2 linked regions of the Homo sapiens genome follow. The protein of the gene in region 2 purifies or fractionates together with the protein of the main gene of each other region. This does not show direct contact. Each region holds a gene or a part of one and is shown on either strand. Other genes may lie near its edges.

The links. Proteins that work in one complex are often made in the same cells at the same time.
Region 1: the proteins of SYNRG (region 2) and HEATR5B purify together in Homo sapiens (affinity purification with western blotting; one study listed by BioGRID). This does not show direct contact.

Annotation. Positions count from the first base shown.
Region 1 is NC_000002.12:37,063,873-37,067,372, forward strand, and holds part of HEATR5B (HEAT repeat-containing protein 5B), read right to left. Parts: intron 2,039-3,500; coding exon 1,883-2,038; intron 1,119-1,882; coding exon 868-1,118; intron 1-867.
Region 2 is NC_000017.11:37,539,919-37,543,418, forward strand, and holds part of SYNRG (synergin gamma), read right to left. Parts: intron 2,648-3,500; coding exon 2,054-2,647; intron 626-2,053; coding exon 462-625; intron 1-461. UniProt on the Homo sapiens protein: Plays a role in endocytosis and/or membrane trafficking at the trans-Golgi network (TGN). May act by linking the adapter protein complex AP-1 to other proteins. Component of clathrin-coated vesicles.

The DNA.
Region 1 (3,500 bases), on a different chromosome or scaffold from region 2:
GCAACCTCAGCTCACTGCAACCTCCGCCTCCTGGGTTCAAGTGATTCTCCTGCCTCAGCCTCCCAAGTAGCTGGGATTACAGGCATGGGCCACAATGCCCGGCTAATTTTTCTGTATTTTTAGTAGAGACAAGGTTTCACCATGTTAACCAGGCTGGTGTCAAACTCCTGATCTCAAATGATCCACCTGCCTCGGCCTCTCAAAGTGCTGGGATTACAGGTATGAGCCATCATGCCCGGCCATGATTTATTAAAACCACTCAATTTTTACTAAACATTATCAAAATGCTAAATATTACAATAGCGTATTATCCTGACATCTTTGAATATATAGCAATGTGAACTTTTATTTCTAAAAGCTGAAAGAAAAGCTCTGACTTTCAAATAATTACTATATCTAAGGTTGGGTTTTTTTTTTTTTTTTTTTTTGAGACAGGGTAGGTCTTGGTCTGTCACCCAGGCTGAAGGACAGTGGCATGTTCATAGCTCACTGTAACCTCAAACTCCTGGGCTCAAGTGATCCTTCCAACCCATCCTCCCCAGTAGCTAGGACCATGAAGTTGGCTAACTTTTTTTATTTTTTGTAATGATGGGGTCTCACTATGTTGCCTAGGCTGTTTTTTTTCTCTTTCCCTCTAAAATAAATTATAACATGTTACTAGACTTGGACAAAATCTATTATCCTTACATCAGAATTAAATATCAAATTATAATAGGGTCTGTTAACACCATAGTAAGAACACTATGTTTTATGATAACATAGTACAACTGTTATTTGACCACCCTGTTCAACACTAAACACAGCAGCGTTCCTATAAAGACCAAAGCCCACGTGACAGCATTCCCAAGTCTAGGATCTCCGTCATACCTTTCCTTTGGCATGAGGAATGCCCAAAGGACACTGATGTACTCCACCTAACAAAGCAGCCATTGCAAAACTATATCCACTGACAGCTTCTGGTGAGGTCTTCAAGTTGTTGAGCCGTTCTGCACACCTGTCTAGAAATGGTGTCAGCTGGAAAGGTAATGCCACAGCCACACAGCGCAAACACCATGCAGCAGCAAGTCGGGCAGCCATGCTTGGATGAAGCAGCACTGAAGTCACAATCTCCAAAAGCCCTAAACAAGAAATACTCAAAATATTACTCTTTAATGAAGTCAAATGATTTCAGAAACTCAAATACTATCTAAAAAACAATAACTGAAATGACAATCACCAAGCTTTCACACATATAGATCCACAACTTTGCCTAAAACTACATACAGTAGAGTACTTCAAAGGAACATTTTCTATGAAGAACATAGTACAATTATATTCAATATTGATGTAAAATTTAATAGAAGTCTTCAACAAATTTTAGTCAATTTTTATAAAAAAACTACCACAATTGCTTTTGATTTCTGTTCCAAAACTTTATTTAACCATTTAATTCAATATTCTTTACAAGGAAACTTTTTTTTTTTTTGAGACTCACTTTGTCCCCCAGGCTGGAATGCAGTGGCATGATTTCGGCTCACTGCAACCTATGCCTCCTGGGCTTAAGCAATTCTCCTGCCTCAGCCTCCCAAGTAGATTACAGGCACGTGTCACCACAGCTGGCTAATTTCTGTATTTTTAGTAGAGACAGACTTTCACCATGTTGACCAGGATGGTCTTGAACTCCCGATCTCAAGTGACCTGCCCACCAGGGCCTCCCAAAGTGCTAGGATTATAGGCACGAGCCACCACGCCCAGCCTATCACAATGAATATTAATTTAAGTAAAACCTGATGATCTGAAGTGCTAATGATGATGATAAGCAACTAATCAGGAATTAAATATCAATCACACTTATGACTGAAAAAAGTGGAAACACATACTAGCAAGTAACTGAATGTCATACCTATAGATGCTTCTTGAATAAGAGGGGATGCGGTGGCATTCAAGCTCTGCACCAGGCTCCCGAGTTCCTGGAGGGCACAGACCATCACATGCTGGCTTGCTGCAATGTCTGCTGCGCCAGATTTGTTTTCTCCACTTGTGTCATTCACTACTGCTTCTGGAAACACAAAATCATGTCTTTGACATAGGAGAAATGAATTGTGGTATGATTTTTTTGGTCTATACAATTTATGATTTTAGCCATACCAGTTGATGTCCGAGTGTTAAAAACTATGCAGTTATTTCTCAATAGAAAACTTGTAGAACTAAACACTGAAGTGACTTAAAAATGTTGTTTAATAGCTTTATAATAATGCTAAAATATATACTGAGATACATCTTTGCTTCCAGGAATACAACCTAATTTTAGCAAGCAGCAGCAATCCAGTGTATAAAAGCACAGATACTGCAGAAAGAAGACTCGGGTTCAAATCCCAATTCCACTAGTTATATTAGTTATGTGACATTGAGCAAGATGTTCAATTTTTCTGTCCCAATTTCCTTATCTGTTAATGGGCTTACATGCCTATTTCAAACGGTACTGTGGTGATTAAAAAGTCAGTGCATATAAAGAATTTAACACAATGCTGCCCATAATACACATTCAATAAATGTTAACAGCTATTATTACTTTATTACCATTGCTACTTTAAGTGTTCCAATATATTGGAGGTATCTGTTAAATTACTGACCAGAAAATGAATCTATAAGGAAAATGCCTTAAGTTACCTCTTACTGGAATGTTTCTGTAAGTTCCCATTAATTAACCTTGCTGCCTGCTACCCCAACCTTTTAGCTTCCACTAGAATCGAAATGTGTTTGACAAGAGACAACCAAAGATCGCTTGCCAAACTACTAATTGAGAATACATTCTGGCCCACAAATCCCCAATACGTATCATTATATTTAATTCTGCTTTCAGGATTTAAAAAAAAATCAAATAACGAATTTATGACCTTAACATTAAGAACCTTTAAATGATAGTAAAACTTTCTTTTTTGCATTCATTATTAATTAATAGACTATAAAATACATAATACAGACTAGGATATAATGGATTAATAAATTGAAGACTATAATTAAATTTTTTTTTTTGAGACAGAGTCTTGCTCTGTTGTCCAGGCTGGAGTGCGGTGGTGCCATCTCAGCTGACTACAACCTCTGCCTCCTGGGTTCAAGCAGTCCTCCCAACTCACCCTCCTGAGTAGCTGGGACTACAGGTGTACGCCACCACGCCTGATTAATTTTTGTATTTTTTAATAGAGACAGGGTTTCGCCATGTTGGGCAGGCTGTTTTTGAAGAACTCCTGGCCTCAAGTGATCCACCCATCTTGGCCTCCCAAAGTGCTGGGATTACAGGCATGAGCTACCATGCCTGGCCAAATAACTCTTGTTTTTAGGTATTTCTGGACTTGGAAATGCATAAACTCTAGCTTTTGATTGCTAAACTTTAAGCTCCCTGAGGATAGGTGCTGTATGCATCTGGCTTGCTATTTTACTCCCACCATTTGACGCGGTGTTTCTGGCACTAAACATTTCCTCAATGAATCAATGTGCAAATTATTCTTTAAGTTGTGAAT
Region 2 (3,500 bases):
GTGTGAGGACGTGGCCCATGTGCACATGTAACAAGGAGTAGGGAAAGGTGGGAAATTAAGTGTGTTGACCATAGGAGGAACATAGCGTGGCACTAAGATGCAGCAGACAGAAATAAAAAATTCAGAATATTTTCCCTGTCTCCTCTATTTTGAGGTTTCATGAAGACAATAAAGTCTAAGTGCTCAAGAAGAATTATACAAACACTGCCATCCTTGTGAAGTCCCATGAATAGTTTTGGTTTTAGGGTCACTGATTAGTTTCAGTGGGTGCCACACCTGGGAAATGTTTTCACCCAGGGCTAATGTTACCCTTGCCTCACTTTAATTACATAGTTTATGTCTGGTGCTTTGTGTCTTTCTGCCCCTCATTTTCCCCATGTGAAAGCTGACAGCATTCTTTCTTGGGGCCCTGTGTGCTTGCTGGTCTGTTACCCACCCCTTGTAGAAAGCTCTCCTCTCACCTCCACCTCTCCCGTCAGGTCTTTGTACTTGTCTCGGATGACGGGCAGGGCGGGCTTCTCATTCAGAGTATTGGAACGGTCTCTGAAAGGCTGCTCCAAAGCTGGAGAAGGAGAAGAACGGCTTATTTCTTTATCACCAAGGCTCAAACTCCTCTTGTGTGATCCTGGGAGAAGGGGATAATACAGTCAAAGGTTTTGGCTACTCACCTTAGTTCAGGCAGAGGCTCTTCCTCGCTACCACAACCCTCTTCTTTTTTTTTTTTTTTTTTTTTTGAGACAGATTCTTGCTCTGTCGCTCAGACTGGAGTACGGTGGTGTGATCTCGGCTCAGTGCAACCTCCGCCTCCTGGGTTCAAGCAATTCTCCTGCCTCAGCCTCCTGAGTAGCTGGGACTACAGGTGCACACCATCATGCCTGGCTAATTTTTGTATTTTTAGTAGATACACGGTTTCATTGTGTTGGCCAGGCTGGTCTCGAACTCCTGATCTCAAGTTATCTGCCTGCCTCCCCTCCCAAAGCGTTGAGATTACAGGTGTGAGCCACCGCGCCCAGCCCACGACCCTCTTCTTCAGATGCTTATGTCATGAGGCATTCACAAACACATTCCTCATTCATTCTTTCTGGGAAGCTACATGTTAAATCTTTTCTACTGTTCTCTCTTGCACGGTTTCCCTGCGTTTCGTTTTCAACATGACTCTTCTCTGATCTATCACAAGTCTTCCATAATGCCCAGTGCAGAATCACTGGAGTCTGGAGAACAAAAGCACCTTTCTAAATATCAGTATGTAAGAGTTGTGTGGCTTTTCCAGTCATTTGTTATGGATTTGTAACCGAGTTCCTTCACAGTCTCTCAATCCAGTTGAAATCAACGACCCCTCCTGTCAGGATGAGATTAAAGCAGAAGAGGCAAACTCAAATGCCTTCAGAGACCAGGCAAGTAAAGTGAACAACTTAAGTAGGTCCGCTGAGACAGGAAGCGGTGGGGATTATGGTAGGAGAGAGAGAATGACCCACCTACAGGGAGTGGTGCTCTTCGGCTCCAGCTGCCAACATATGGGACTGTAGACCTACTAGTGCCAGATATTATGACTTCTCAAGAAAAGTTGGAAATCCAGATTGGGAAATCTCATGTCTTTTAAATACTGGCAATTACTTCGTACTTAAAAATCTTTTGTGTGGGTCAATGTGATATGCAGGCTAGATGCAGATCCCCGGCCCCCACTTTGCAACCTTTGGATTAAAAGACATTATCTGTGCTCAGGGAACATGAGCGGAGCTAATGTGCCTACAAGTGGCTCGAATCCATTTATCTGGCTCTTTTAACACAGCACACCTCTAACCAAACGAGCTAATGAGCAATACCTGCATGCTGTGCTTGTTTTTAGCCCATAAAGCAGTTATCTGAGGGATGCTGATTTTGACTCCCGTCTCAGGGAAATCTTTATTATAGCTATCTGTAATTGACCCTGATTTCAAAGATTAGAACAATCTATTTCCTGCGAAACCAGAGAGCAACATTTTATTCTTAAGAACATCTAACATCTCAGTGGAAAAAAACCACAATAGTAAAATCTACCTTGGAAGCTACTCACCTTGAACAGAAAGGTCAAAGGTTGCCAGCTCACTTTTGATCATTTCTTCACTGGATTTCATTTTGCTTTGTGAAGTGGCTACTAAGAAGTCAAATTTGCTGATTTTGGGCTTTTCACTTTGAAACTCTCCAAAGTCATCCGAACATTCGTTCGGGGTTTCTTGAGAGGCACCACTGGACGCTGGGCTGGGACACGTGGCCTCCTGGCTCCGTTCAGCCGTAGGCAGGTCCTGTTTTGTGAAATCTTTATAGTCTCTGTTTTCATATTCCTTTTGCTCACTGGTCTGAGGAATCGTGTCTTTAAAACTGGCAAGAGCTGGGAAGGTGGTCTCTGGAAGAGCATCTTCACTTACAAAGGTCGTTACTTTGGAGAGAGATGTCATGGTGATGTTTTCAGAACTGCCAAATGAAGTCTCTTTCTTTTGAAGAATTGAGGTGGCTGAGGGGGATCCACTTCCTGCTGAGAGGACAAATGGAGAGAGTTTTCTGCCCTGAGTTGCATCATCCCTGTCTGACCAGTCATAGCTTGTAAGTGTGCTCACTGCAAAATTGCTACTGTAGCTTCCAAAAGCAGCATATTTTAAGTCCTCTATATCTGAAAGGGAAATAAGACCCCACAATTAGAGGCAAGCAATTTAGGCAAAATGCCCTAAACTCTGTAGAAGCAAAATGCCTAGCATATTTGATTAGTTTTATACTATGTTGAAATTAGCTAAATTTAGAGTTTGTACTAAAATTAAGAGTTGGGCTGTAAAATCTGATCTTAAAAAAACCCACATTAGCCTTGAGTTGGCATTTACATTTAGTTACCAAGAACCATTTTCTTTGGCTATAAAAATTACTAAAAAAAGATAGGAGGTTCATCTACCAAAGTATACACTGTTTGATATAAGATTAGGGTCATTTAATAAATTGTTCCCTTATCAACTTAAAAATGTACTGATATTCCTTGCCTAAAACATGTCTCCCTTCATCTTGACTTTGTTGGAAAATGTGCCTTTAAAACATGGTCATGTGAAATGCACATGGCAAAATAATTAAAAGTTGACAGTTTCTCAAAACTAAAATGAAAATAATGTCATCTAACTTTTAATCAATTATTAGGGTTTCTGTCATAATATTATCAATTATTAGAATTTCTGTCTCAGGCAATGCCAAACATGAGATTTTAATCAAGCAATTACTTACCTAGTTGTTATTTTGGTCAAATTGGACGTCATATTGCTGTGATGAAGTATGAGGAAAGAAAATCAATCTGATCTACTTTAGCCCTTAAAAAAATACAATAAAAAGATCTGGGTCCTGTTGGGCTCCACTTTTTCCTTCAACTATGTATCTACTCCCCATTTTTTAAAAAAAAAGGAAAGAAGAAAAAGAAAGAACTGCTGGGGCAGACGACTGATTTTACAAAGCATTCTTAATATATAGTTAAGTAATTTAAGAGGTAG